Homo sapiens: one gene and its partners. The protein of the gene in region 1 interacts with the protein of each later gene in a pairwise test. Each region holds a gene or a part of one and is shown in the gene's direction. Other genes may lie near its edges.

The links.
Region 2: the proteins of U2AF1 (region 1) and SRRM4 interact in binary tests that used the Homo sapiens proteins (3 or more experiments, as listed by UniProt).
Region 3: the proteins of U2AF1 (region 1) and HNRNPM come close enough for resonance energy transfer, tested with the Homo sapiens proteins (one study listed by BioGRID).
Region 4: the proteins of U2AF1 (region 1) and SARNP interact in binary tests that used the Homo sapiens proteins (3 or more experiments, as listed by UniProt).

Annotation. Positions count from the first base shown.
Region 1 is NC_000021.9:43,104,484-43,112,246, reverse strand, and holds the start of U2AF1 (splicing factor U2AF 35 kDa subunit), read left to right. Parts: upstream 1-4,676; 5' UTR 4,677-4,752; coding exon 4,753-4,796; intron 4,797-6,401; exon of another isoform or gene 6,402-6,461; intron 6,462-6,691; exon of another isoform or gene 6,692-6,745; intron 6,746-7,763. UniProt on the Homo sapiens protein: Plays a critical role in both constitutive and enhancer-dependent splicing by mediating protein-protein interactions and protein-RNA interactions required for accurate 3'-splice site selection. Recruits U2 snRNP to the branch point.
Region 2 is NC_000012.12:119,145,507-119,152,795, forward strand, and holds part of SRRM4 (serine/arginine repetitive matrix protein 4), read left to right. Parts: coding exon 1-179; intron 180-5,219; exon of another isoform or gene 5,220-5,319; intron 5,320-5,504; exon of another isoform or gene 5,505-5,510; coding exon 5,511-5,714; intron 5,715-7,289. UniProt on the Homo sapiens protein: Splicing factor specifically required for neural cell differentiation.
Region 3 is NC_000019.10:8,468,735-8,476,023, forward strand, and holds part of HNRNPM (heterogeneous nuclear ribonucleoprotein M), read left to right. Parts: intron 1-39; coding exon 40-100; intron 101-2,591; coding exon 2,592-2,693; intron 2,694-4,929; coding exon 4,930-4,974; intron 4,975-5,432; coding exon 5,433-5,510; intron 5,511-7,289. UniProt on the Homo sapiens protein: Pre-mRNA binding protein in vivo, binds avidly to poly(G) and poly(U) RNA homopolymers in vitro. Involved in splicing.
Region 4 is NC_000012.12:55,807,533-55,814,821, reverse strand, and holds part of SARNP (SAP domain-containing ribonucleoprotein), read left to right. Parts: intron 1-7,289. UniProt on the Homo sapiens protein: Binds both single-stranded and double-stranded DNA with higher affinity for the single-stranded form. Specifically binds to scaffold/matrix attachment region DNA. Also binds single-stranded RNA. Enhances RNA unwinding activity of DDX39A.

The DNA of each region.
Region 1 (7,763 bases):
CAATTTGGCCTCCCAAAGTGCTGGGATTACAGGTGTGAGCCACCGCACCCAGTCTGTTCCAAATTTAAATATACTTTCCCCTTTTTGAGAGAAGGAAATGTGTGCATTGTGGAATTCCAAAAACACTGCTTAAGAGATGTATGGGAGCTGAGGGAACAGGCAGAAAGAGATGAGTTTAGATCATCCCAGAGGCAGAAGGAGAAGCAGCAGCTGGAAACAAACAGGAGAAAGCCTCCATGGTCTTTTTGTTTGTTTGTTTTTGTTTTTGTTTTGAGACAGAGTCTCACTCTGTCACCCAGGCTGGAGTACAGTGGCGCCATCTTGGCTCACTGCAACCTCCGCTTCCTGGGTTTCATGTGATTCTCTGCCTCAGCCTCCCAAGTAGCTGGGATTACAGGCGCCCGCCACCATGCCCGGCTAATTTTTGTATTTTTAATAGAGATGAGGTTTCACCATCTTGGCCAGGCTGGTCTTGAACTCCTGACCTCGTGATCCACCCACCTTGGCCTCCCAAAGTGCTGGGATTACAGGTGTGAGCCACCTCACCCAGCCTGAAACTACTTCTAAATTTTAAAAAGAACTGTGGATGGCTGGGCGTGGTGGCTCACACCTGTAATCCCAGCACTTTGGGAGGCCAAGGCTGGTGGATCACCTGAGATCAGAAGTTCGAGACCAGCCTGGCCTACATGGTGAAACCCTGTCTCTACTAAAAACACAAAACATTAGCCAGGCATGGTGGTGGGTGTCTGTAATCCCAGCTACTGGGAGGCTGAGGCAGAAGAATCGCTTGAACCCGGGAGGGGGAGGTTGCAACAAGCTGAGATCGTGCCACTGCACTCTAGCCTGGGCAACAAGAATGAAACTCTGTCTCAAAAAAAAAAAAAAAAAAATTGCGAGGCAAGGTGGGGGATGCCTGTAATCCCAGCTCAGAAGAATCGTTTGAACCTGGGAGGCAGAGGTTGCAGTGAGCCAAGATCACGCCAATGCACTCCAGCCTGGGTAACAGAGCAAGACTCTGTCTCAAAACAAACAAACAAAAGAAATAGTTTCAGATAATCTTCTGTTTTCTTCTTGCAAAGAAATGACTTCATCAGAACTTCTTTTAGAAGCTTCTAAGTATCATTGAAAAATAGCTCTCTCAGTTTTTAAATTTTAGATGCAGATTTTTCCTATTGAGTGCATAAACTAGTTACTTTAAAGGCGCCCCATTTTAGCTATTATAGTCTGGGGTCTTCACGGGTTAAGTGAGACCATGTTTCTAGATACTGACAGAAGGTGGCACCATAAGCATTGTCCACGAATCCAGCTGCCGTCTCTGCAGATGCATGTCTGCTCTAGAAGCACAAGTGTCCATAATTTAGATTTTCCTTCTGAATGACCAAAAATGCCTAAGGGGAGGAATTTTGGTCACTAAAGAAGAAAATGGCCAAGCGCGGTGACTCACGCCTGTAATCCCAGCACTTTGGAAGGCCGAGGCAGGGGGATCACGAGGTCAGGAGTTCAAGATCAGCTTGGCCAAGATGGTGAAACCCCAACTCTACTAAAAATACAAAAAATTAGCAGGGCATGGTGGCAGGCGCCTCTAATCCCAGCTACTTAGAAGGCTGAGGCAGAGAACTGCCTGAACTGAGGAGGCAGAGGTTGCAGTGAGCCGAGATCATGCCACTGCACTCCAGCCTGGGCGACAGAGCGAGACTCTGTCTCAAAAAAAAAAAAAAAAAAAAAAAAAAGAAGAAGAAGAAGAATGTTTAGATTTGTCAGTTGAACCAAGTTTCAGAATATGGCCAGTTTTAAAGATGACACTTTCTCCTTGACCAAATTTCGAATGAGAGAAAAGGCTGCAAACTGTAAAAAGACAAGCAAAACCTCAGACAGAAGTGAAAATCACAAATCTGCAGTCAACAGAATCTCTAGAGAATAAAAATGGAAACTCCTACCTTTCAGTGGAGCTTCAGTTCTAACCCTATCAAATTATTAGTGTGTAAGTCTCAATCTTCAACTAAGCTGGGAGGATTCAGATCCCAAGACTGGCCTTACCAGAGACCCCTGCCAGCCCCAGTGAGGTCGAGTAAACAACAGTCGTTTGTGCTGGTACCAAGGCTCCAACTATTGATGCCACTACTTAGTGGCAATCCCTGAAGGCCTGCTTCAGGTCCTATCTGGGTTGCCAAAATGTCAACCTCAAATAATGAAATTCAGGAAATATGATTAAGTATAGAGTTTATTTGAGCCCAAAGCTTGAGGATGGCTCCCTGGGCACATGCCCCTAGGTTGCCCTGAACATATGTTCCCATTAGCAGCAGTCACAGTGGGGTTTTAAGGAAAAGGAAGAGGCAGTCCCTAAGTTGTTAGCAAGAATTTGCATTAAAATAACAGAAGGTGCTGATTGGCTATGCATCGTTCTTAGCATCACTAATTCCATGTGAACAAGAAGATAATGGGTGAGGCAGCCTGTCAGGAGCAAAAATTCCATCAAACAATTGCCCTGGACAGTTGCTTCTATGGTGGAAGAGGCGCTGAATGAAGTCCCACACTCCTGCCTCTCTGGGCCTGATCATTCTGCACACCTCACAGAGCTCAGACTACCCTATTTTTCTTTTCTCAGGAAAAATGGGTGGATGGTACTGGTGGCCCTGCCTGGTCTGATCATCTACCCTGGTTCTAGTAACCAGATTAATTCCTTGTAATAGAGCTGTGGATTTCAGTTCAGTTCCCACGCACAGACCTTACCTCTGCTTTCTCCGACCACTTCTCCCCCACCCCAGGTACTTCACAGCTGAGAGCCTCTTGCCAGCTTCCAACTCTCCAGCAGTCTTTGTTCCCAGACCGTGTCCTGAGGCTGCACTTTCTGGACATGCCCACCTGCTGGACTGGCATCTGTCTTGTCACTTCTCTGGCCTCACCTCTGCGAAAGGAACACAAAAGTCAGGACCCCAGTTCACTCTGTCAAAAGGAAAAGAATGAGCTGAAAGCTGAGTCATGTAAGCAGCTGCCTTTCCTTTCGTTCCTAAGCAGACGGCTACAGATAGAAGGTTCAACATCCGCTTCTCTTATGTAAAGTGCTGATTTGCTGAGGAGTGAGCTGTACACAGTCGACTGTTCCCAACCTGCTTCTTTTCTCTTGCAACGTGTGGATTACCACACTGTTCCGCTTTCCCCTCCAGCCCACTTTTCCCCTTTAAATACTGAAGCCCTCAAAGTCATCTTTGGAGAAAGGCACAGACCACAGACTGTTTCTGTGATACCGTGTTTTTTTTCCTCCCAGGCATTGTCCTTAACCTTGGCAAAATAAACTTCTAAATTGATTGAGCCCTGTCTCAAGATACTTTTTGGTTTAAACCTCTGAGGCCCTACTGTTTCTAATACAGGTTTCCAGTTTGCTCATCTTTCCCAGGTAGGAAGATGCTCTGTTGCCAAGAGAAATGCAATTCTAACACGCAAATCCGCCCAAACACTAGAGCTCAGCATTCAGCTCTAGCCGAGCTAAGAGGATCCCATGGTCCTGCCCCACAGTCTGGGGCTCATCTTGTGGAGGAGGTAAGTAAAATAGGCCCTGTCTCTCTGACTTCTACCTAATCAGAGTTGATAGTTGCGTTGGAAATTAGGTAAATCGCAGGTGAGTTGATGAATGTGGGAAACCAGATGAAAATGGCTGCTTGATGGGGTTAAAACGCAGGAGAGGAATAGAACCCTTCCAACGGAATGGTTCCAGCCTTGTGACATGAGGAGACTGAAAGGGTATCCCAGAGGCAGGTCACTGGCCTTCCAGCTCCACCTGTGGGTGGCCTTGGCCAGGCAACTGCAAGAGTGCAGGGCCCCGGGGAGGTCGCACCTGGCAAGCGCTGAGGGAGGGTAAAGCGGAGAGGGGTGTGAGAAGAGAAAAACAACACAGAGCGTCCGAGCTATGTGAGGCGTGCGAGGTTAATCCGGCCCGGAGAGACAGGTCTATGCGGCTTCAGCGGTCCCCACCCATGCCTGGCAATTGTTTAAAGGCACTATTGCTCCGGACCCGCTGCCTTCACCCATGAACTTCCTTTCCTGGAATTATGATATAAAGAACAACGTACAGCCAATTAATAGCTTGTTATTTTCATGTAAATTCTTGGTGAGCTATTTAAGAACTGCCCCCCTCTTAAGCTTTATAAACCCACTTGTCACTGTTGCAAATCCTATGTTCAGGGCAACTTGAAGCTATGCTCCCGGGTTGCAATCTTCAAACTTGGCCCAAATAACCTCTCTACTTATATCAAGTTTGCCTCAGCTTTTTTTTTCTTCTAGGTCGACGGTTCCCGCCCCGCAAGGGTGCAGGGAAGGGGACGCCCGCACTTCCTAGTGCTCCCTTAGCTGGGGTCGAGCTGAGCGCCCCCCACCGAGCCCCAGGCGGCTCTGTGGAGAAGCCCCTCGGCCCCGGGTTCGGTCTGCACTGCCAGCCCCCAGTCCCCGGCGCGCAGGATCCAGCAGGGCCAGCGCCGGGCGGGCGAGAAGGCGAGAGAGCTAGGGCCGGGCGGGGAGGGCACCGGCAGGGGGCGCGGGTTCCCAGGACCGAAAAGGCGGAGCCTCCCACGCGCACTACGTGCTCCCTACGCGCATGCGTCCCGCCCACGCGCAGGCAGCACCTCGCCTGACTGGGTAGCGCTGCCACGTCGGGGCGGGGAAGAGCGTCGTCGCGTCCGGGTGACGTCTCCCGAGGGCGTCGGCAGGGTCGGCGGCGTCGGCAGCAGTGTCGACGGCAGCGGCGGCGGCGGGTGGGAAATGGCGGAGTATCTGGCCTCCATCTTCGGCACCGAGAAAGACAAGTGAGTGGGAGCCCCCCGCCGGGGGTTGGGCGCGATCGGGGCGCAGGGTGGTTGAGGCGGTGGGAGGGCGACCGGGGAGGCCCAGGCGGGCCGGCGCGGCGGTGGCGGGGGAGGGGCGCGCGGCGGGAAGGAGCGGTGGCCCTTCCGGCCCCTTGCGCGCCCTCCGGAGCCGCCGCCTCGTGGGCCGCGCGGCGGAAAACTGGAGCGGGCAGAATGAATGGGGTCTCTTTTCGGGGCGCCGCGGCCGAGCTTTCTCCGGCCTTGGGGTCCGGACTGGCTGATCGCCCGACGTCCGGGCCTCCGAGTCGCCGACTCCCGGAAGCCGCCTCGAGCCGCGCTGAAAGTTGCCTGGAGCATCCGGGCCTTTTGGACGTGGACACGTTTGTTCCAACTTTCGGCTGTGAATGTCCTGTCGAGCAAGCTCTGGTACCAGCCTCGCCAGTATTCAGTCGCTTATCTAACTTAGGGTCCTAAGCGTTGGTGTTTTATCCACTTAGCCAGCCTCTTGCCTGTTTAAGCGACCGCTGGGCCGGCAGTAAGGAGATATGACGAGAAAAAGTATGGTGGAGACTACTGGATTAACTATCTAACCACAAGAGACGTGATCCGCTCTTAACATACAGGTGCTCCTGGATTTACCATGGGATTGCGTTCCGATAAACCCATCATGAATCGAAAATGCCTTTAATACCCCGATAAACCCATCATCTAAGTTGAAAATTTGTAAGTCGGTGACTGTTCTTGAAGACACAATTCTGATATAAGGAAAAAGATGTTTTGATTTTTTCCTTAAGGTTGCATGCCTTCCCTAATCAATCGTTAGGTTAAAAGCAAAACATTTAATTTCAGCTTTAATTGCCACCTTGGCACGTACTAATTTCCAGTGAGTTGGCTGTAGTTTAGACTAAATGGAATGTTTTCAGACGTTTGAAGGATAATTCTTACTTTGAAAACCTAAAGACTCAGCATCTGGCTTAATCTACTCTTTAGTTATCTTGGCATTCTTCAGTGCCATACAAAGTTAACATGACTTTATGTTTTCAATGATAAACCCCTAAGTTTGTCATAGATGTTTTTAATGCCACTTTTTTCAAACGCTATTTAAAATGTTTCTCTTTTCCAGGATGGAGTCTATCTTGTAAAATGTCCTCTTCACACATGGTAGAATCTCCTGTGTTGTTTGGATGAGGAGGCTATATTTCTAGCAAAATTTTAAGCCAAAATCTACCAGTTATAGTCACTCCAGAAACATTTAGTGGGGGTCAACTATAGGTCAGTTTCTGGAGACTTAAACATGGGTAAAATTTGGATATTATCCTTAAGGAACTCACGGTATGATCTTGGCGAATGAATAGACCAGCTCTATCGGAACAAGAGACTCTTCTGAGTTTAGGGTGAAGAACTAACACATGTAGGATCGGGGCATCATTAATTTCTCCTTTTCATATTTGCATGTGGCATGACTTCTGTCTTGTAAAAGTCTATCTCCCTATATTTCTGCTATAAGCAACCACATTTCAATCTATTGGGCTATACTATAAAGGTCATGGTTTTAATTCAGAAAAGTTGATTATTTAATCTAGGTTACTTGTGTTTTCTTTTCAGGGAGACGTGGGGTTTTAGCTTCCAGGGAACAGGATCAACTCCTGAAAAATGAAGCTGATGGTTCATATTAACTTTAATTATTATTTAAGCTAAGAATAAAATATAGATCTCTACCAATTAAAAAATGTTTAGCTTATTATATGTTTGAAGTTATAGATGTTTTCTAGATTCAGGGATATCCTAATAGCTTGTCTGTAGTTTAATTGTGTGGAATAATTGGATATTAATTGTTGAGGCCCAGGGCTTGCCCATTCTGAGGTAGTTTTTAAATAAGCTTTCTTTATTTTTAGATGACTTCCTAAAGATATGCTATTGTCTAATCAAGTTAAATAATCTCAAGACCTGTAAGTTTGCAAATATATATAATCACTTTCCTCTCCTGATAAATTTGGACTTTCCCATCTTTATTGCTACCTGATAATAAATCAGTGGCTAGTCAGTCTTCATGGTCCATTAGATTTCACTGAGGTTGAGGCCCTTCAATCTTAACTCTGGATTGACTGTTTAAAACATAATGGCACTTGGTTAAAAAAAAATTGAATTTTGAACAAAGTCTGTCTGGTAAGATGTCCTAATTCATCAGAGATCGGCTTCCCTCCCTGACATTGCTGGCACACAGGCATGATTGCTGGTTCCATTGGATATGGATCTGGATTGTCAGCGTATTTGAACAGTATTAAGGGAGGGTTTTGCAGTAGAGACAGAAGGTGACGTAAGGTGGTTCCTAAGGTGGGTTCGGTCAGTCCCCTAATAGTTTGTTTTCAGTGTATTGAGACCAGGAGAATTGATTTACTTCAGACCTATTTTTTGAAACTCCCTGTTGGTCTGGTGTCATGCGTTTAGAGAGACTCTGAACTTCGTTTTCTGTTTTCCTTAGATAATGATAGCACTTCATGAGCACCATATGTGAAGCACACATACGTTCTGTCTGACTCTCAGAACAGTGCCACATTGGCATTGTCATCATTTACAGATGACATCTGAGAGCTAGGGTGACTTGCCCAAGCCCAAGCAGCTGGTAGCAGAGTTGGGATCTTAACCCTCACCACACCGGTGTTTTCAAGAGAGAACTTGGTCGTGGAGAACTGGAGAACAGATACTGCCTAAGTTACATTTAGTTTTAGACTAATTTAATACTCCATTTAAGAAACAAACAGAACAGCTGTGCAGTTAGGAAAGTGGAGGGGATTTGAATGAGGAGGAGGCGGGTTAGAGTTAGAACCGTCTTTGCTGAACAAGTAGTGTGTTTGCAGAAAGGGAAGTTGAAGTTACGTTGTCCTAAAATACAGCAAGGAAGAGGAGGTGCTTAATACCACGGAAAAAAGTCTGTGTCATGTTTCTGTGAGGTTAAAAGTAATTTGA
Region 2 (7,289 bases), on another chromosome or scaffold:
AGCTCAGCCAGGTCTCGGGGCCAGGAGAAGGGGAGCCCCAGTGGGGGCTTGAGCAAGAGCCGGGAGCTCAACAGTGGCAACACCTCTGATTCAGGGAACTCCTTCACCACCTCCTCACCCCAGAACAAGGGGGCCATGTTGGAGAATCTCTCCCCCACCAGCAGGGGCAGAGAGTCAAGGTCAGTGCACCACACAGGGTCGGGGGTAGACGGTCTCCCACCTTAGCTCCACCTTCTCATGCTCTCATCCCAGCCTCCCCCACTCCACCCCCAAGATTATTTTATTTGTAAGAGAGATGAAACTCAACTCAGACTGGCTTGTTTTAAAACACTAGTGGCACTAGCTTCAGGTACAGCTGGATTCAGGGGTTCAAAAATATGTTGCTGGAAATCCGTCTTTCTCATTACATCTCTTATTCTGCTTCCTCATCCTACTGGCCTTATTCTCAAGCAGATCCTCCCAAAGCATTGTCAAATATGCCAAGCAGCTAACATTCTATTGGTTTAGCCAGCCAACAGGAAAACAATGCTTCTTTCTCAAAGATTTCAGCCAAACACCAAGGCAGGTGCTTATTGGTTCTGTTTGGCCCAGCTTAGGTCATCTGCCCATCACTGTCCCAGGGGATGCTATGCTGTTGGCCAGAATGTGTCAGATGCCATCACTAGGGCTAATGAGTCGAACCTTCCCACACTCCTCTACAGGAAAAGCCAGGTTATTGGTATCAGGAGAGATGGAGGCTAGGCAGGCAAAAAAACAGATGACAATTTTACCAGTAATCTTAGAAGGAAGTCGAACATTGACCAGGCGTGGTGGCTCACACCTGTAATCCCAGCACTTTGGGAGGCCGAGGCGGGTGGATCACCTGAGGTCAGGAGTTCGAGACCGGCGTGACCAACATGGAGAAACCCTGTCTCTACTAGAAATACAAAATTAGCCGGGTGTGGTGGTACATGCCTGTAATCCCAGCTACTCGGGAGGCTGAGGCAGGAAAATTGCTTGAACCCTGGAGGCGGAGGTGGCAGTGAGCTGAGATTGTACCATTGCACTCCAGCCTGGGCAACAAGAGTGAAACTCCATCTCAAAAGAAAAAAAAAATGAAAGAAAGTCTAACATTAAATTAATTGTAAGTCATTTAAGAACATATCACAGGCCAGGTGCGGTGGCTCACGCCTGTAATCCCAGCACTTTGGGAGGCCGAGGCGGGTGGATCACGAGGTCAGGAGATCGAGACCATCCTGGCTAACACAGTGAAACCCCGTCTCTACTAAAAATACAAAAATTTAGCCAGGCATAGTGGCGGGCGCCTGTAGTCCCAGCTACTTGGGAGGCTGAGGCAGGAGAATGGCATAAACCTGGGAGGTGGAGCTTGCAGTGAGCCGAGATTGCGCCAGTGCACTCCAGCCTGGGTGACAGAGCCAGACTCCATCTCAAAAAAAAAAAAGAACATATCACAGTATTTACCCAAATGAATTGAAAACTTATCTCTACATAAAAACCTGCACTTGGATGTTACAACAGCTTTATTTGTAATTGCTAAAACTTGGAAGCAACCAGAATATCCTTCAGTACGTGAATGAATACATAAATTATGATACGTCCAGACAATGGAATGCTATTCAGTGCTCGGAAGGTATGAGGTACCACGCTATGAAAAGACATGGAGGAAATGTAAATGCATATTACTAAGTGAAAGAAGCCAATGTGAAAAGGTCACACACTGCATGGCTCCAACTGTATGACATTCTGGAAAAGGCAAAACTATGGAGAAAGTACAAAGATAAGTGGTTGCCAGAGGGTGAGGGGACAGAGGGATGAATAGGCAGAGCACAGAGGATTTTTAGGGCAATGGAACTACTCTGTGTGACACTACAATGGTGGATAACTGTCATTATACATTTGTCCAAATCCATAGAATGTATAACACCAAGAGGGTACTCTGATGTAAACTATAGACTCTGGGTGATAATGATGTGTCAATGGAGGTTCATCGATTGTAGCAAATGGACCACGTTGGTGGAGGATGCTGATAGTGGGGAATAAGGCTGTGCGTGTGTAGCAGCAAGAAGTATATGGGAGCTCCCTGTGCTTTCCATTCAATCATGCTATGAAACTAAAACTGCTCTAAAAAATAAAGTTTATTAATTATAGATACAGATATACCATAGTATAATTTATCAACATATCAGAGAACATTGAGATTTCTCCATTTTTTTACCCATCTTAACACACTCACTAGATGCAGTTTTCCTGCAGAAAACTCTTCCACACAGATGCATATGAGCCAGTTGTAATTCTACTTCGTCATCCGCTTAACTCTCTCACTCAAGAAATCACAACAAAATGCTAATCACTGAGGTTACTGTCATCATAATAGCTACTAAAATTTACTGATCACTTAGTCTGTACCATTCATTCTGTTGTTTATTCCTCAACTTGTTTATCAGGCAAGTCCTCTCTGCCAGACACTCAGCCTGGTGCTGGGGATTTAAAAATGGAACAGTCCTTTTTCTCAGGAGCTTATAATTAATGAGGCAGATGCACAGTTGCGGGATGGGTGGAAAAGCTTTGCTGGTGCCCTCTGTCATGCTAACAGTGAGGTTTTTCTACTTCTGAGGGTGGGAGTTTGCCTTTGTTCCATATAGCCAAAATTTTCAAAAGATGACTAACGCCTTAGCACTGAAGCAGCTAACAGCTTCTTCAAAGACAGAGCACTCTTTGTCCCTAACACATACCCCATTTCAGTCCTGGACAAACAGCTTGACATCCACATGCAGAACTGCCTTCCCATTTGCCTGCCCCAGGTCATCCCTGGCCTCAGCTCACACCCAAGCTTGACTGAGAACCTGAGCTGGGCCAGAGCCAATGTCAGTGTCTCCAAGAACAGGCAGTGAAGTTCCCAGAAGGGAGGAGGAGGACACATGTTTACTGATATACAGCAGTGCTATTATGCAGGAAAAATTGAAATAGCAATAACAACAACAATAATAACGGCAGTTCATATTCGTTGAGCCCAAATCACATGCTAGGTACACTGCCAAATGCTTTCCAGAAATAATCTTCCCGAGCTCCTCAAAACCTTTATAGGACAGTACTATTTGTAACCCTTTTTTACCTGATGGGGAAACTGAGGCTCAGAGTGGTTGAGAAACTCAGTTAATAAGTGGCAGCACCAGAATTCAAATACAAATATGTCCCCCAAACAGGAACTAAAGCCTGAGAGACATCTAGCAGTTACCTGTTTAATTTGATCTCCATGGACAGCCAAATTAAGTAATTTAGACCCAGCCTTTCACTTTGAAATATAAATGATGGTTGAGTCCATGACTGTTTATGTCATGCCACTTATGAGCAGAGAGGGCTCAATAAATATGGGCTGAGTGGAAGAGACATCAGCTCTAAATCAAAGGAACCATAGACACTGAAGGTAGGGAGCTGGTGAGGTGGGAGGGGTGGGGACTCTGGAGCTGCACAGATCAAGGTTTGGGGCTCTGGGTGGTTTTGAGGAAATAACAAACCCTTCTGAGACTTCTCTGTAAATCTGGGGGTAATAATAGCATTGGCAGCTGGGCGCAGTGGCTCATGCCTGTAATCCCAGCACTTTGGGAGGCCAAGGCAGGTGGATCACGAGGTCAAGAGATCAAAGCCATCCTGGCCAACATGGTGAAACCCCATTTCTACTAAAAATGCAAAAACTAGCTGAGTGTGGTGGTGCGCACCTGCAGTCCCAGCCACTCGGGAGGCTGAGGCAGGAGAATCGCTTGAACCTGGGAGGCGGAGGTTGCAGTCAGCCAAGATCACGTCACTGCACTCCAGCCTGGCGACAGAGCGAGACTGTCTCAAAAAATAAATAAATAATGATGTCGGCTTCAGAAGGTTGTTGGGAATGAAATGATGCTTGTGAAATTCTCAGAACATTGAAAAGGTCCCCAGGGAGCTGTCTCCAGGGAGCTCAATATCTGGGACAGAAGAGACAGCCTACAAGTATAAGACTAAGTAAGCCATATAGGGATAGGCAAAACATAGAACTAAGGTCTGTGGTAACACACTGGAGGTCGCCCAACCCAGACAGGGGACGGGGGTGTCAAGGAAGGTTTTCCAGAAAGGGTGAGGTCAAGCTAAAGCCAGAATCATAAGTAGGAGTTGCCAGATGAAGAGGGAATGGAGAGGGTTTGCAGACAGCCAGAATGTTCTGAGGCCTGGAGACAAGGAAGAGAATAGGGATATTTCAGGAGGAATAAGTAGTCTATGACAGCTGGAGTCAGGAGAGGAAAGAGTCAAGACCTGAGATTGGAGGGGTGAGCAGGTGCCAGGCCATCGTGAGCCTTGAAAACCATATTAATGTGATTTGAACTTGATTCTTGGCCCAATCCAAATAAATATGCCTTCACTGAGCACCTAACAGAGGTCAGCCTGGCCCTAGGCAGGGTGGGAGTACAGAAGACAGCACTCTAGCCTTCTGATAATCCTGAAGCCTCTGTCTTTTGGGAGGTCTCAATTCCTCCAACTGCAAAATGGGTTACATCAAAATTTCCCAAAACTAAACCAACAACAGGTCATCTTGATTTTTACCATATCCATGTACTACTGATATTCCTGTTTACTTTAATAAACTCATTTTTAATATATAAGTAAAAGGAAAATTACAGTACTATCTGAAATAGAAAATTAGAATCAAATGTCCTTGGCCGGGCACAGGGGCTCACATCTGTAATCCCAGCACTTTGGGAGGCCAAGGCGGGTGGATCATTTGAGGTCAGGAGTTTGAGACCAGTCTGGCCAACATAGTGAAACCCCATCTCTACTAAAAATACAAAAATTGGCTGGGTGTGGTGGCATGCACCTGTAATCTCAGCTACTCGGGAGGCTGAGGCAGGAGAATTGCTTGACCCCTGAAGGCAGAGGTTGCAGTCAGCCACTGCACTACAGCCTGGGTAACAGAGTGAGACTCTGTCTCAAAAAAAGAATCACATGTCCTAAATAAAAGGTACCTATAAAAACACATATGATTAAAACAATGGATTTAATCCTACTAGTTGCAGTTGCCTAACCAAGGCTGAGTCTGAGGTGTGCTCCTCTCTCTTAGAGAGATTACAAAGTGTTAGAGAGGTGTTACAAACCAACTAGCACCCAATGGGGGCTTCCTCATTAATGTAATCAGAAGGACAGAAAAAGACTAGACAGGGAATAAATTTCTCACCATGTAATCTGATGTTACTTACCATCATGCCCATGCCTGATGACATTCTAAAATACTCCACTGTGGCCCCAGCGGTATGTGTTTCACACTTGAGGAAATGCTAACCTGAATTGTCTACTTTTAAGGTATCTTCTGTCTCTACTCCTCTAACATATGTGGCCTGGGAAGTCTTTCCAGAGAGAATAGGATGGGAAAAGGGGCAAAGAGGGTTCTATGAGAGCACCACAGCCTAGGCCAAGGTAGGGAGGTATTCAAACAAGATGCTCCCAGAGTAGTGGGCAGTCGGTGCTCATGGACATTTTCCCACCTGCAGGGGATTTCAGTCACCGTGTCTGGAATGTGCCGAAGTGAAGAAGTCCAGTTTGGTCCCATCCACAGCCCGGAGCTCACCCATGAAAGGGTGTTCCCGCAGCTCCTCCTATGCCAGCACCCGATCCTCCAGTCACTCGTCCCGATCCCCAAATCCCAGGGCTTCCCCCAGGTACACCCAAAGCCGATCCACCTCTTCTGAAAAAAGGTGAGTGTGGTTTTGACCTTTGCTCTGCAGCACCTTTCTCCTTAGGAAATTAGTTAATTGCAGATGTCCTTTGACCCATGGGGGAGAGAAGTCAGACGGACTTAGGTTTGAATACTCGTTTTGCCCATTTCGAGCTGGTGGCCTTGGGAAAGTCAGTTAATTTCTCTGAACCTGAGTTTTCCCATCTGCAATATGAAGAAATAGCAATTCTTACCAGAAAAGATTGTTCTGAGGGCTATAAGGCACTTAGAACAGTACACAGAACATAATGAATATCAGTTATTATTGCTGCTATTGGCATGAGAATGAGCTAATGTGTATCAATTAACTTCTGCATAGAAAATTATCCCCAAACTTAGCATCTTTAAAACAAGTGCTACTTAGTTCCTGATCCTGTGGATCAGCAATTGGGCTGGGCTCAGCTGGGTGGTTCTTCTGATCTCATTGGGCTCACTCATACGCCTTTGATTGACTGGTGGGTTGGCTGGGGGCTGGAGAGTTTGAAAGACCCCAGCTGACTCATCACTCTACTCCATGAGGTCTCTCCTCCTCCAGCAGGCCTGTCTTGGTTTGTTCACATGGTGATGGCAGAATTCCAAGAGAGAGCACAGTATTGTGCAAGGCTTCTAGGCTTGGAAGTAATTAGCATCCCTTCTGCTATTCTATTAGCCATAGCAAGTCACAAGACCAGTACAGATTCAAGGGTATTCCTCTCAGTGAAAGGAGCTGCAAAGTCACATTGCAGGGGATGTGGACACTGGGAGAAGAAAAATTATGGCCATTTTTGCATTCTGCTACCCAGTTTCAATAGCTATTGGTAATCGCTTGATTGCCTCATGTAGAATAATAATGTAGCAGAATGAGACATGAAATCTCAGAAATCGGAAGATTCTATCCAAACGAATCAACCCATAAATTCAGGGAGTCCAGCTTTCCTCTGCAAAAAGAAATTCCCAATAGGAGCTTGATTGTTCCTCTTTTGCAACTATACAATCAAAAAACAGTTGCTTATTTAGCTGGTCATCTCAAGACTGGTCCATTCCAAAAAATGAGACAAGGCAACTGATGAAAATATTCAACATGATAGAGTGACATAAATAGAAGAGCAAATCAGGCTAAAAGAAAAATTAAGGAAAGAAATATAAAATTAAGTCAGGAGACAGTCCCAAAAGTACGTCCTACCATTCTGTAAAGTTGCTATGGAGGTAAGCTGCAAATATGACGTCTGAGCTCCCTGACAGACAAAGCAAAGAGGAAAATTACTCCCTCATTTACTACATTATTAACAAAAAAAAGATAAGAATTGAACCAGTTGCTCAGAAGAGCAGCTATTTCAGGTTTTTAATTCTATGAAAAATGACTCAGATGGCTCCACAGAAAAGGGACTCTATATGGTGCAGTGAATGGAAATTCTGATAATATCCTTTCAAAGTATCCAAAAACAGGTTTCATCTTGACTCTTTCTTATATCTCTCAATGCATAGCCAAAGCATAAGTTGGCAAAAGCACATTTTTCCAGTGACCATAGCTGGACACTGCTGAGGGCACTGAGAAGGGAAGAGCTATTCCTGCCCC
Region 3 (7,289 bases), on another chromosome or scaffold:
ACTGGATACTGAGATTTGTTTGTTTTCTTTCTCTTTCAGGATGAGAGGGCCTTACCAAAAGGAGATTTCTTCCCTCCTGAGCGTCCACAACAACTTCCCCGTAAGTGTTTCAGTGATTAGGGCTGAGAGTTTGAATTGGAGTTACACTAATAAACAGAAAATTACCATATGGTTTCACTTGAACCTGTGCCAGGTTAGCCCTCAGTTCTCTTGGCCAGTTCTTTTCTATAGATTTTTCAGGGTGAGAAATGAGCAGAGATTCACAACTTGAGGATATTGTTAGGATTACCTCATGGTAATCCTAGGATTGTAATACCAGGATGTAGAGGATGTGGTTAGGCATTTTGAAAGTGTCCTGGGGAAGGAAGAATCAGAACCTGTGAAGGGAATGAAAACCAGGCTGCACTCTAATTCAGAAGATACTGGTTAGTCCCATGTGGGCTAGCAGTGCACACTAGACATCTGCACAGAAATTCGCACGCAGATGTTTGCAGCAGGATGAAAGACACATGCTGCAGTGTGGATGAACCTCGATTTCATCTACAGGAAATGCTCCGCATAGATAAATGCATAAAGGCAGAAAGTAGATTAGTGGTTGCCTGAGGCCGGGAAGGAGTAAGTAGGGACGGGACTGCTAATAAGGTTGGATTTCTTTTTTGGGTGATGAAAATGTTCTGGAATTAAATGGTAGTGATAGTTGCATATCTCTGAATATACTAAAAACCACCGAATACTTTGAGTTTTATGGTATGTGAAGTGTCTTGAACAAATAATTTGTATGCAGAGGGGAAAGGGATCAGCTATTTGTGACACCCAGGTGAAAATCTGTCTCGTGACAGGGAAGGCTAGTTGATGGGCTACCACATAGGTAGAAGTGGCAAATATTAGTGCAGAGTCATAGATAAGCCAGAGGCTGGAAGCAAGAACCTCAGTGCATACAGCGGTGGGACGACTCAGGGAATCACTGGCGCAGGTAAAGCTCTCCTGGAGAAGAAAGATGGATGAGGGTGAGAGGCCTGTGTGTGCTGTGCTGGGGTGACCTCCACCAGGCGGGTTGAGGGGGCCTGGTCTGGAGCAGCAGCTCAAGCTCAGGGCCCTACTCACTGAGTTGGATGGGAGCCCAGGCCAGAGCACCTTTGCAGCGTAGCATTATGGCAGCATGACAGATGTATCTTGAAGGGAAATCTGTGGCTTCATGAGAAGGCTCATCTGTTGAAAGGCAACATTAGTTAGAGAAGGATTGCATTTCCTGGACATAACATACTCATTTCCCAAATAAATTGTCAGTGTGCTCACCTGAGCAGTGGTCACCCTGGACCATGGCGATGGCTCTTGTTGACTCTTGTGCTGGAGCAGGAGGAGGAGCACACTGCTCCAGGGAGCCTGTTATCCATGGCTCTTGGTCTCCCGGCCATTTCGGAGGCTTGACTTCAAAGCCTTCAGTGCTTTGGGAGAGTAAGTCACCGTGGCGATCTCTTGCTGCTGTTGCTATGCAATTAAAGATGGAATGTTCATCAGATGAAACGCCTGGGAAGTGGTGGCAGGTTTTATTTACTTTTTAAATGAACTTTGTTTGCTTTCTTTCCTTCCTTTCTTCCTTTTTCTTTCTTTTTGATGGAGTCTCGCTCTGTCGCCCAGGCTGGAGTGCAGTGGTGCGGTCTTGGCTTGCTGCAACCTCCATTTCCTGGGTTCTAGTGATTCTCCTGTCAGCCTTCCAAGTAGCAGCGATTACAGGCATGTGCCACCATGCCAGGCTAATTTTTTTTTTTTTTTAGTAGAGATGGGGTTTTGCCATGTTGGCCAGGATGGTCTCGAACTCCTGACCTCACGTGATCCACCCGCCTTGGCCTCCCAAAGTGCTGGGATTTCAGGCGTGAGCCACTGCGCCTGCCCTTGTTACGATTTTTAAAAGCTTACCTGGTTGTAGTTTAAGCCTCAGATGGTGGTTACCCCAGATATTGCAAGTGTCAGCTCTTTTGGCTGTTTCCAGAGACCAGCCTGTATTTCTGTGTCCCTGTCTGTGTTGGTAGGGCATGGAGTTGAGTGTGGGCTGGGTATCCAGTTGTGGGTTGGGAAGCTTTGGGGGAAGGAAGATAGGTTCTTTGAATACATACATTAGCTTCATTGTTACTAAAACCACCCAGATTCAGAGAGTAGTGGACACCCAGGATGTTGATTGGCTGGTTTGTAACGTGTTTTTTCATGAGAAACATCCTTTGGGCTACTAGGGATTGGGCACATTTGTGCTGCTTGCCACCTGATGTCTTGAGTCACCTTTTTTGATCAGACAGTTCTCAGTCCATGGGTTAGTGAAACAAATAGGCTCTCAAGAATCTTAGTGTGGGGGTTGTTAACTTTCCCGTGTTGGTTTTCAGCCGCCTTTGTTGTATACACACATATCCCAAACGCCGGAACAAGGCTCTGTTTCCAAGTGTGCCGATGTTGAATTTTGCATTGGGCCCTGAGGTCACTGGTGGGTGGGGGTGGGTAGGCTGAAGTGGATAGCTGCAACTCACTAAACACTCTTTTCCTTTGAGGGTCAAGGTTTGCTAAATAGGGGAAAACTAAGCTTCTTTCTCTTTTCTTTCCAGATGGCCTTGGTGGTATTGGCATGGGGTTAGGACCAGGAGGGCAACCCATTGATGCCAATCACCTGAATAAAGGCATCGGAATGGGAAACATAGGTCCCGCAGGTGAGAATGACAGTGCACCTTGCTTGGTGGTTTGGGGAAGTGAAAATTATTAATTATTGGGACAACTGGACTTTGAGTAGTTTAAATGGAATAAATATTTAACTGGGACAAAATTCCCTCCTTATTCATCTCTGCCTCATTTTGAATAAAGGCAGTATTTTGTATTTTTATCAAGTTGAGTCATTTTTTAAAAAGTCATTATGCTTTTTCATTGTAACCTGACAACAACCTTCTAAGCTGAAATAGTTGTGCCATTTGATAAGAGGAGGCAAGCCAGAGAGTTGATCTTGCTCAAGGTCACACTGTCAGTTACTGACAGGCTGCAGGTCTCCTGACCACGGGACCATAGCACTGCCGCAGTGCCCTGAAAAGTGTCTTACCAAGACCCCTTTGGGCCCTCCTGGTGTTTGCACAGCTGCTGCTAGAGAGCTAGGGGCATTGATAGATGCAAAAAAGGTGGAGAGGCCAGGCACGGTGGCTCACGCCTGTAATCCCAGCACTTTGGGAGGCCGAGGTGGGCGGATCACAAGGTCAGGAGTTTGAGACCATCCTGGCCAACATGGTGAAACCCCATCTCTACTAAAAATAAAACAATTAGCCGGGCGTGGTGGCGCACGCCTGTAATCCCAGTTACTCAAGAGGCTGAGGCAGGAGAATTGCTTGAACCCGGGAGGCGGAGGTTGCAGTGAGCTGAGATCACATGACTGCACTTCAGCCTGGCAACAGAGCGAGAGTCCGTCTCCAGAAAAAAAAAAAAAAAAAAAACCTGCATGAAAGCTTTGATGTGTAGAATAAACTCAGGCTTTGCTGTTTAGCATTTTCATTGCTGTGTAATGATGTATTTTGATTCTATTAAGGAATATGTCATTTTTATGACCTTAGACTTTGGTCTTTGTTGGAATCCTTTGAAATTGGAATATGGAAGCCCCTCTATCCCACCATTGTCAGTGTTGCATATCCCTAGACTCTCTTCCAGAGTCACCCTGGGGCTGACTTAAATTCTGGGCCACAACTTCAAATGGCTGTTAACGTTTCCCCCGACCCAAAACACACACACCCCATGTCTGACATCTAAACAGAAAGACTGGGGGTTGGGGAGGAAGTCTTGGTGTTTTTAGGAACTGGTTTTTATTTTGAAGATTTTACCTTTAACAGGGATTGATTTATTGAGACGGAATTTTGCTCTTGTTGCCCAGGCTGGAGTGCAGTGGCTCAATCTCAGCTTACCGCACTCAATCTCTGCCTCCTGGGTTCAAGTGATTCTCCTGCCTCAGCCTCCCAAGTAGCTGGGATTACAGGCATGTGCCACCACACCCAGCTAATTTTTTGTATTTAGTAGAGACAGGGTTTCACCATGTTGGTCAGGCCGGGCTGGAACTCCTGACCTCAGGTGATCCACCCGCCTCGGCTTCCTGAAGTGCTGGGATTACAGGCGTGAGTCACCACGCCCACCCTTAACAGGGATTCTTAAAAAAAATCTACTTCTGTTCCCTAAAATTTTCTAAAAAGTTTATGTTCCATAGAATGTGTCTTATAATTCTATTTCATGTTTAATACTGCCTAACTTGAGGCCTGGTGTGGTGGCTTATGCCTGTAATCCCAGCAATTTGGAGGCCGAGGGTTTGAGACTAGTCTAGGCGACATAGACTCCATCTCTACAAAATATAAAAAAAATCAGCCAGGTGTGGTGGCGTAGTCCCAGCTACTTGGGAGGCTGAGGCAAGAGGATCACTTGAGCCTGGGATGTTGAGGCTGTAGGGAGCTGTGACCATGCCACTGCATTCCAGCCCCAGTGACAGAAGGAGACCCTGTCTCAAAAACAAAAAAAACACAAAAACCCTGCCCGACTGGGTCATTAAAGTATGTAGATCCCTCAGAAAAAGATTAGCCAGGCGTGGTAGCAGGCGCCTGTAATCTCAGCTAGTCGGGAGGCTGAGGCAGGAGAATTGCTTGAACCCGGGAGGTGGAGGTTGCAGTGAGCCAAGATTGTGCCATTGCATTCCAGCCTGGGTGACAGAGCAATACTGTGTTTAAAAAAAAAAAAAATAGCTATATGATATTTGACAGTTGAAATGGTAAGGGCTTTTTTTCTTGCTGATTAAAATATATAAAATATACTTGTCATCAGGGATTTTCTTTTGAGTTCTTTTGCTGGTTTGGAATTATGCTTTTTAAGTTCAAACGTTATTTACTGCTTTGACATAATTTTAGTTTGCATTGACTTTTTCTTTTTAAGGAATGGGAATGGAAGGCATAGGATTTGGAATAAATAAAATGGGAGGTAAGAAATTTAAAATGAAGTACAAGCATAATCACTTTTAGGCATAGTTTTCTCTCTTTCCTCTTTTCTTTCTTGTTTAAACCCTGCATGAAATTCTCTTTGGTTTCAGTTTGAGTCTAGAAATGACTTCCTCCTGCCTGTCCATCCTTCCAGCGGGTGTCTTGGCTTTTGGTTCTGGCTGTCTCACTAACTAGCTCTGTGACCTTGGGCAGACCACTCCATCTCTATGCCTCTTTTTGCTTGTCTATTCATTGAGGGGGTTGGATCAGACCAGCTTTTTGAAGATGGGTGATTTTTAAACAAGGGTGCTAGCATTTTTTTTGTTTTTCAAAAGCCTTTAAACTTGGTAAGTTCTTGGCAGAAGATACCCCAGTTGAAACATGTGATAGAATTTTTCTTTCCCTGCTTAGTCTAAGCAGTCTTGTTGGATGATGCTGAAATGTGAACCTCTCTTGCAGGAATGGAGGGGCCCTTTGGTGGTGGTATGGAAAACATGGGTCGATTTGGATCTGGGATGAACATGGGCAGGATAAATGGTAAGCATCGTGTTTTCTTCCTGCTTTCACTCACCCTTTGCCGGCTGTTGCCTCTCAGGTGACTTTTAGGCTGCAGACCCACTGAATAAGTGGTTTCTCACTTCTGCTTTTCAACCGAATCAAATGTCTTTTGAATTGCCTTAAATATTTCAAAAACTAGACATAATAGTAGACTTACTTCACTTGGTCGCTAGTCTTTTGAGATGTCCTGTGTTCCCAAGCTCTGCAGTAATTTTCGAGTACAGTGTTAAAAAGCATGTACACGTTCGTGGTTATGGTCTCCGAGTATGAGGGATTCTTTAAAGTTTGTAATCAAGTTTGTCTCTGGGAGTGCTGCAAAGGGTTGTTCTTGGTCATCTGCCCCAGCTACAAGTTGTCTATAGAGGCGTTAATAAAAATCACAGGCTCTTTTAATTTAGCATTTACATAATGCAAATTCTGGTTTAGTATAATTCAAATCCTCCACCAACTTTTTTTTTTTTTTTTTTGAGACAGGGTCTCACTCTGTCACCTAGGCTGGAGTGCAATGGTGCGATCTTGGCTCACTGCAACCTCCGCCTCCCAGGTTCAAGTGATTCTCCTGCCCCAGCCTCCTGAGTAGCTGGTATTACAGGTGTGTGCCACCATGCCTGGATAATTTTTATATGTTTAGTAGAGTCGGAGTTTCACCATGTTGGCCAGGCTGGCCTCGAACTCCTGACTTCATGTGATCCGCCCGCCTCAGCCTCCCAAAGTGCTGGGATTACAGGCGTGAGCCACCGTGCTCGGCACCTGCCCCCAACTTTTTAGCAGAAATATAATAATATAATAACAATGTAGTATTTCATTTAGTCCTTGTGAGAACCACATGATATGTACATACTGCTATCCTTGTTTCATCTGAAACTGAGGCACAGAGAGTGACATGCCTAGGTCAAGTGACTGGTAAACAGTGGTGCCTGCATGTGAACCCAGGCTGTCTGGCTCCAGAGCCTGGCACTTCATCATGTGGGAATCCTGCCTTTTAGAAGTGCCTCCAGCACAGCACTTGGCCCAGGGCACCAGCAGGGCTGTAGAGTGTGCATGAGAAATTGTAAATTTTCCTTTTTGAAATCCTTTATGTGTTGGTGACTCTTTGACCTTCCCCTTCACTGCAGGAAAGCTGCTGCTTTTTTACACAGAAACTTTCTTGGACTGAGAAGTCATTAGGGATTTAGGTATAAACCTTCCTTTGCGGGTCTGCCATAACAAAGGATGTGAAAATGGTACAAGGACAGACATCATTGTCAGGCTTGAAAGGCGGCTGTCCCTGATGATCAGGCCCTTCTTCCGGTGCACAGGGAGCAGTGGGGCATGATGTGTGTTGCCCTCTTCATGGGTGCCTTGTTCTAGAAGCTGGTAAAAGGATGTAGGAAAGTTGTCACCATTAGTAATAAAGCAACAGAGGTCTGCGTTTCCAGTGTACATTCAAGCTTGCCTGTAACTTGTGTGTGCATGGGATTTTAATTTTTAAAAAAAGTTTCAGAAATCTGGCTTGGTAAAATGTTACTCAGAGCAGATTAGTCTGGGTGTGCTGGCTCACGCCTGTAATCCCAACACTTTGGGAGGCTGGGGTAAGAGGATTGCTTGAGCTCAGGAGTTCAAGATCAGCCTAGGCAACACTGCGAAACCCCATCTCTCTCTTTTTTTTTTTTTTTTTTTTTTTTAAGAACAGATTAGTCATTAGGGAATTTGAGTTGTTGCTGTGAGGAGTAGAGTGATGCAGTTTAGAAGTAGATGGAAATCAGGATGGGTTGGCCT
Region 4 (7,289 bases), on another chromosome or scaffold:
TCTCGGCTCGCTGCAACCTCCGCCTTCCAGGTTCAAGCAATTCCCGTGCCTCAGCTTCCCGAGTAGCTGGGATTACAGGCACGTGCCACCATGCCTGGCTAATTTTTGTATTTTTAGTAGAGATGGGGTTTCACCATGTTATTGGTCCGGCTGGACTTGACTGACCTCAGGTGATCCTCTTGCCTTGGCCTCCCAAAGTGCTGGGATTATAGGCATGAGCCACCACTCCTGGCCCATACTAACACATTTGGAAAGAGAGATTGAACTGTGGATGAAAATGGCTTGAACTGTAACAGTATCAGATATCCAGTCAAACATTAGAAAAGGAACTATTGCAGAGGAGAGGAGAAAGTGATAGTAGTGTCAGAGTGTTGAGAATAGTGAGACATTTGTATTGAAAAGTGAAGTGAGGAAATATATTGGTAGTTGAAGATAGTTTGGAAAGGAAAATAGGTAAACTATAAAGGTAAATCAGAGTGATATTGAAAAGGGCTTTCTAAGTTATGTAAGGACTTCTGGCCTTTGTCATGTAAGAAGTAGGGCTGGGAGCCTTTGGAAGTTTGAAAGGAGGAGCTTGATGTGATCAGCTTGTATTCTCTTGGCGGATGGGATTTGTAGGGGGAGCGATTTCACCACTTAGATATTTATTATAGGAGTCATTCCCCTGCTTAAAACCTTTAAATTATATCCCTGCCCGTCTCTCCAGCATAGTTACTAACTCTTCAACTACTGTGGCCTTATTTTATTTAATTTCTTCAGAATGCTTCATCAATTGCCAACACTTAGCATTTGTTATGTGGCAAAGCACTGTTTGAAGCCATTTACATACACTAACTGATTTAATTCTCATAATAACCCTGTAAGGTAAATACCTGTATTATCCTCATTTGAAAATAAGAAAAACCATAGCTCAGAGAGAGTAACTGAGTAACTTGCCTTAGGTTGCACAGCTAAAATGTTGTATATTAAATCCAAGCAGGCTGGGTGCAGTGGCTCACGCTTGTAATCCCAGTACTTTGGGAGGCCGAGGCAGGCGGATCACCTGAGGTCGAGAGTTCGAGACCAGCCTGACCAACATGGAGAAACCCCGTCACTATTAAAAATACAAAATTAGCTGGGCGTGATGGCACATGCCTGTAATCCCAGCTACTCGGGGGGCTGAGGCAGGAGAATCACTTGAACCGCGTAGGTGGAGGTTGCGGTGAGCCGATATGGCACCATTGCACTCCAGCCTGGGCAACAAAAGTGAAACTCCGTCTCAAAAAAAAAAAAAAAAAAAAAATTCCAGGCAGCCTGTGTCCAAAATTCATGTTCTAATCATTGCACACTGCTTCTCCCTCTTACCTCAACCTAGAACCTTCACATATGCTGCAATTGGAGTTTTCTTTCGGCTGTAGTACTCCGGCTGCCCTTCCTCCCTAACACGTTTATCTAATTAATTACTACACCCCTTTCAGGTGTTTCACTCAAATATTATTTACCCAAGGAAGCTTTCTATGTTCTATCCACAAACATGGTCAGGCCACTTTTTATATAATTTCATAAGACCCTGTGTGTTCTTAAAAAATCAGCTAAACATGCCGGGCACGGTGGCTCATGCCTGTAATCCCAGCACTTTGGGAGGCCAAGGTGGGCAGATCACGAGGTCAGGAGTTTGAGACCAGCCTGACCAATATGGTGAAACCCCATCTCTACTAAAAATACCAAAAGTAGCTGGGCCTGGTGGCGCGCACTTGTAATCCCAGCTACTCGGGAGGCTGAGACAGGAGAATCACTTGAACCCAGGAGGCGGAGGTTGCAGGAGCCGAGATCGCGCCATTGCACTCCAGCCTGGGCAACAGAGTGAGACTCCGTCTCAAAAAAAAAAAATCAGCTAAACGCTATCTGATCATTGATTGGTTTGTTCTCTGCAAGATTGTAAGCTCGGAATGGGAAGGACTCTTATGTTTTGCTCATGATTATTTCCCTGTATCCAAGATAATACTTGATAATACAGTAGGTGCTCAATAACGATTTGTTGAGTGAATAAGCATGTCAAGACTTCAAAAGAATGGGAATGAATTTGAAAGACATTTAGGATGTAGTAGAATTTCAAGTATTTATAGATCAGTTAGATATGGGAAAAATGAAAGATGACTCCAGGGTTTGGGTAGTGATACCTTTAGTCTGGGTTGGGAGGAGGAGAAGCCAGTTTTGCACAGAAGAGGTAAGTTCATTTTGAGGCTTAGGTGTCTGTGGGACATCCACTTGGACATGTCAGGTAGTCAGTTGGAAATGTGGGTCTTTCACTCAAGAGCTGAAAGCTGATGATGAAGACTTGGGATTTATTCAGAAAATATGGAGCACCTGCCATGTCCCAGTTACTGTGGGTGCCAAAGATACAGCAGTGAACAACAGAGACAAAATCCTTGCTCTCATAGAGCTTGTATTTTACTGAGGGAAGGCAAAATAAAAAGTAAAATTTATGGTATGTCAAATAGTGATTGATAAGGCACATAGAGAAAAATAGGAGAAAGGAATAGGGAGTACAATGGGAAGGGTATTGTAATTTTAAATAGAGTGACTGGGGAAGTCATTAACAAGGAGATGTTTACAAAAAGAGTTGAAGGACGTGAAGGAATGAGCTATGTGCAAAGTGTTAGAGGAATAGCACAAGACCAGTTTGGCTTATCAGAGTGAGCAATGGTAATAAGGTAATGGTAGGGGAGGGCAAAGCTGCAGGGCCTTTTAGGTGATAGGATTCAGCCTTTTACCCTTAGTGAGATACGAAACCAATGGATGATGTTTGACTAGAGGAGTGACATGTTCTGACTTAAATTTTCAAAAGATCACTCTGTTACTTTGTTGAGAATAAACTATAGTGAGGCAAGGGCTGAAGAATTTTGACAATAATCTGTATGAAAGAAAGACTAGAGTAGTAGCATTTGCCGTGGTGAGAAGGGTTTGATTTTGGATATATTTTAAAGATAATGCTGATAGACTTTGCCGCTGATTGAAATCGGGAAGTGAATTAGCCTTTGATATATGTGGAATGACAAGACGCCCAAAGAAGGAATCTTAGTGAATATTTACAGGTTTGAGTGGAAGAAGAGCTAGCAAGGAGGCTGAGGAGGAGAGAGTGAAAGAAAGAAGTGCCAAGACTTTGGCAGTTAATATTGAGCATAAATCAGAGACACTTGAGCTGGCATATTGGTCTACTATTTACAAGCTGTGGTTTGTTTGTTTGTTTGTTTGTTTGTTTGTTTGTTTTTTGAGACAGTGTCTCGCTTTTTCTCCCAGGCTGGAGTGTAGTGGCACAATCAGGGGTCACTGCAGCTTCAGTCTTCTGGACTCAAGTGATCCACCTCAGCCCCTGCTCCCACCCAGTAGGTGGGACTACAGGGGCACACCACCACACCTGAACTGTGTATTAATTTTTTAATTTTCTGTAGAGACAGAGTCTACCCGTGTTGCCCAGGGCTGGCCTCAAACTCCTGGCTTTGAGCAATCCTCCCACCTCAGCCTCCCAAAGTGCTGGGATTACAGGCATGAGCCACCACACCTGGCCAAGCTGTGTGATATTTAAGCAAGTTATTGAATTTCTTTAAGCCTAATTGTAATACCAACCACTTAGGTTCCTTGTAAGGATTTTGAGTTCCCATCATATATGTTATAGGTGGTCTAAAACATCTCTGCCTTCAAAGAATTTACAAACTATATGTTGACATAACATGAAAAAGATGATTTCTTTTTTTTTTTTTGGGATGGAGTCTCGCTCTGTCACCCAGGCTGGAGTGCAGTGGCGTGGTCTTGGCTTGGCTCACTGCAACCTCTGCCTCCCGGGCTCAAGCCCTTCTCCTGCCTCAGCCTCCCGAGTAGCTGGGATTACAGGTGCCTGCCACCACGTCTGGCTAATTTTTGTATTTTTAGTAGAGACAGAGTTTCACCATGTTGGCCAGGCTGGTCTTGAACTCCTGACCTCAGGTGATCCGCCCGCCTCGGACTCCCAAAGTGTTGGGATTACAGGCGTGAGCCACCGCGCCTGGCCAACGTGAAAAAGATTTCTGATAAAATATTTTAATCAAAATTTGGCCGGGTGTGGTAGCTCATGCCTGTAATCCCAGCCCTTTGAGAGGCCGAGGCGGGAAGATCACCTGAGGTCAGGAGTTCAAGACCAGCCTGACCAACATGGTGAAATCCCATCTCTTCTAAAAAATACAAAATTAGCTGGGCATGGTGGTGCACGCCTGTAATTCCAGCTACTGGAGAGGCTGAAGCAGGAGAATCGCTTGAACTGGAGAGACGGAGGTTGCAGTGAGCCGAGATTGTGCCACTGTACTCCAGCCTGAGTGACAAGAGTGAAACTGAGTCTCAAAAAAAAAAAAAAAAAATTCAAGGTCAGTTAACTAGAAGAAATCACAGGGCAAGCTGGGCACAGTGGCTCACGCCTATAATCCTAACCAACACTTTGGGAGGCTGAGGCAGGAGGATCACTTGAGCCCAGGAGTTTAAGAACAGCCTGGGCAACATAGTGAGACCTCATCTCTACTGGAAATAAAAAAATTAGCTGGCTGTGGTGGCACACACCTGTGGTCCCAGCTATACAGGAGGCTGAGGCAGGAGGATCATTTGAACCCAGGAGGTCGAGGCTGCAGTGAGCTGCGATTGCACTGCTGCATTCCAGTCTGGGCAACAGAGCAAAACCCTGAGTCAAAATAAAAATAAATAGAAATCACAGGGCAATGCATGATTAATGTCAAATGTATGATGAGGGTAAGTTGATATGTCTTTTCTCTGTGGGTTGGATAGGTAGAATGGAGAATGCTTTATTGATACTGAAAAATAAGATTTAAAAAACTTTTTGAATAGGTAATCATGCACAAGTTCACAAAAGAGTATATGGTAAAAAGTTTCTTTCCTACACTTTTCCCAAACTAGCTTCCTCTTCTCAGATTCAACCAGTGTTAACTTACCTGTTTCTTCTCCAGGCATCTTGTTTATACACATTATACAGAGATGTGTGTGTATTATTTTTTACATTAATGTTAGTATCCTTATAGAATGTTCTATAACTCTTTTCTTTTTTTTTTTTGTTTTTTGAGACAGGGTCTCCCTTCTGTCGCCCAGGCTGGAGTGCAGTGGTGTGATCATGGCTTACTGCAGCCTCAACCTCCTGGACTCAAGTGATGCCCCTGCCTTAGCCTCCCGAGTAGCTAGGACTACAAGTGTGCCTGGCTAGTTTTTTGTTTTTTGAGAGACAGGGTCTCACTGTGTTGCCCAGGCTGGTCTTGAACTCCTAGGCTCAAGTGATCCTCCTGCGTCGACCTCCCAAAGTACTAGGATGACAGATGTGAATCACTGTGCCTACCTAGCTGGTTTTTTTTGTTTATTTTCTTCTTGGGACAGGGTCTTACTGTGTTGCCCAGGCTGGAGTGCAGTGGCATGATCATGGCTCATTGCAGCCTCAGCCTCCCAGACCCAAGTGATCTTTCCATCTCAGCCACCTGAGTAGCTGGGACTGTAGGCACATGCGACTATGCTCGGCTAATTTTTTTTTTTCAATAGCCTTACTGAGATACAATTCACGTACCATACAATTCATTCAGTATACTTGTTAAAATATTTTTTGTTTGTTTTGAGATAGGGTCTCCCTTTGTTACCCAGGCTGGAGTGCAGTGGCATGATCTCGGCTCACTGCAGCCTCGACTTCCTGGACTCAGGCCATCCTCCAGCTTTAGCCCCTCAAGTAGCTGGGACTACAGGCACATGCCACCATGCCTGGCTGTTTTTGTATTTTTAGTAGAGATGGGATTTCAACATATTGTCCAGGCTGGTCTCGAACTCCTGGACTCAAGTGATCTGCCCACCTCTAGCCTCCCAAAGTGTTGGAGCCAAAACATTTCAAATCAAATCAAATCAATTTAGAAAAATGGGATAAGATTTTATGTTAGTTCCTATTTTAAGTTTTAAAAGGTTTTAGTTCTGCTAATGTAATTGTGCTGAAATACGTGCAAAAAGAAATTACATCATTTTCAGCTGTTTTATGTTTTTATTCATCTGTTTCTCATTCATTCATTCTTTTGAGGCCAGGTATTGCTGTGTTGCCCAGGCTGGAGTACAGTGGTGTGATCACAGTTCATAGCAGCCTTGACCTCCCAGGTTCAAGCGTTCCTCCCACCTCAGCTTCCCTAGTAGCTGGGACCACAGGCGTGTGCTACCTTGTGTGACTAATTAAAAAAAAAATTTGGCTGGGCGTGGTGGCTCATGTCTGTAATCCCAGCACTTTGGGAGGCCGAGGCGGGTGGATCACCTGAGGTCGAGAGTTCGAGACTAGCCTGACCAACATGGGAAAACACTAAATTAGCCAGGCATGGTGGCGCGTGTGTGTAATCCCAGCTACTCGGGAGGCTGAGGCAGAATTGCTTGAACTCGGGAGGTGGAGGTTGCGGTGAGCCAAGATCACGCCATTGCACTCCAGCCTGGGCAGCAAGAGTGAAACTCCATCTCAAAAAAAAAAAAATTGTAGGAACAGGGTCTCACTCTGTTGCCCAGGCTGTTCTTGAACTCCGGGGCTCAAAGCTGTCCTCCTGCCTCAGCCTTCCAACTTGCAGGGACTACAGGCATGAGCCACCATGCCCAGCCTCTATTTTCCTTTTAAAATAATGTCTATTTTCCTTTTAAAATAACGTCCTAGTATATGAGAAGAACTCACTATATAACAAAAGAAGTAATACAACTATGTAAAAGCTGTGTGTAGGCTGGGCACAGTGGCTCACGCCTCACTACAAATGATATATGTAAATGTTAAGTGATCTGTAAGTGCTGGGATTACATACGACTTTTATTTTCCTCTAAACTTTTCAGAATTTTCTAACTATTCTACAGTGAACATAATACTTTTATAACAAACAAAAAATTTAAAGTGTAATTAAGATCAAAAGACTTGTTCTCCAGGAAGTGGGAAGAAAATAATGTATCAGTGTGAGAAAGATCAAGATTCTTAAAAAAAATTTTTTTTTTTTTTTTTTTGAGACAAAGTCTCGCTCTGTCACCCCGGTGGAAGTACAGTGGCACGATCTCGGCTCACTGCAAGCTCCGCCTCCCGGGTTCACGCCGTTCTCCTGCCTCAGCCTCCTGAGGAGCTGGGACTACAGGCGCCCGCCACCGCGCCCGGCTAATTTTTTTTTTTTTTTTTTGTATTTTTAGTAGAGACGGGGTTTCACCGTGCTAGCCAGGATGGTCTCTATCTCCTGACCTCATGATCCGCCTGCCTCGGCCTCTCAAAGTGCTGGGATTACAGGAGTGAGCCA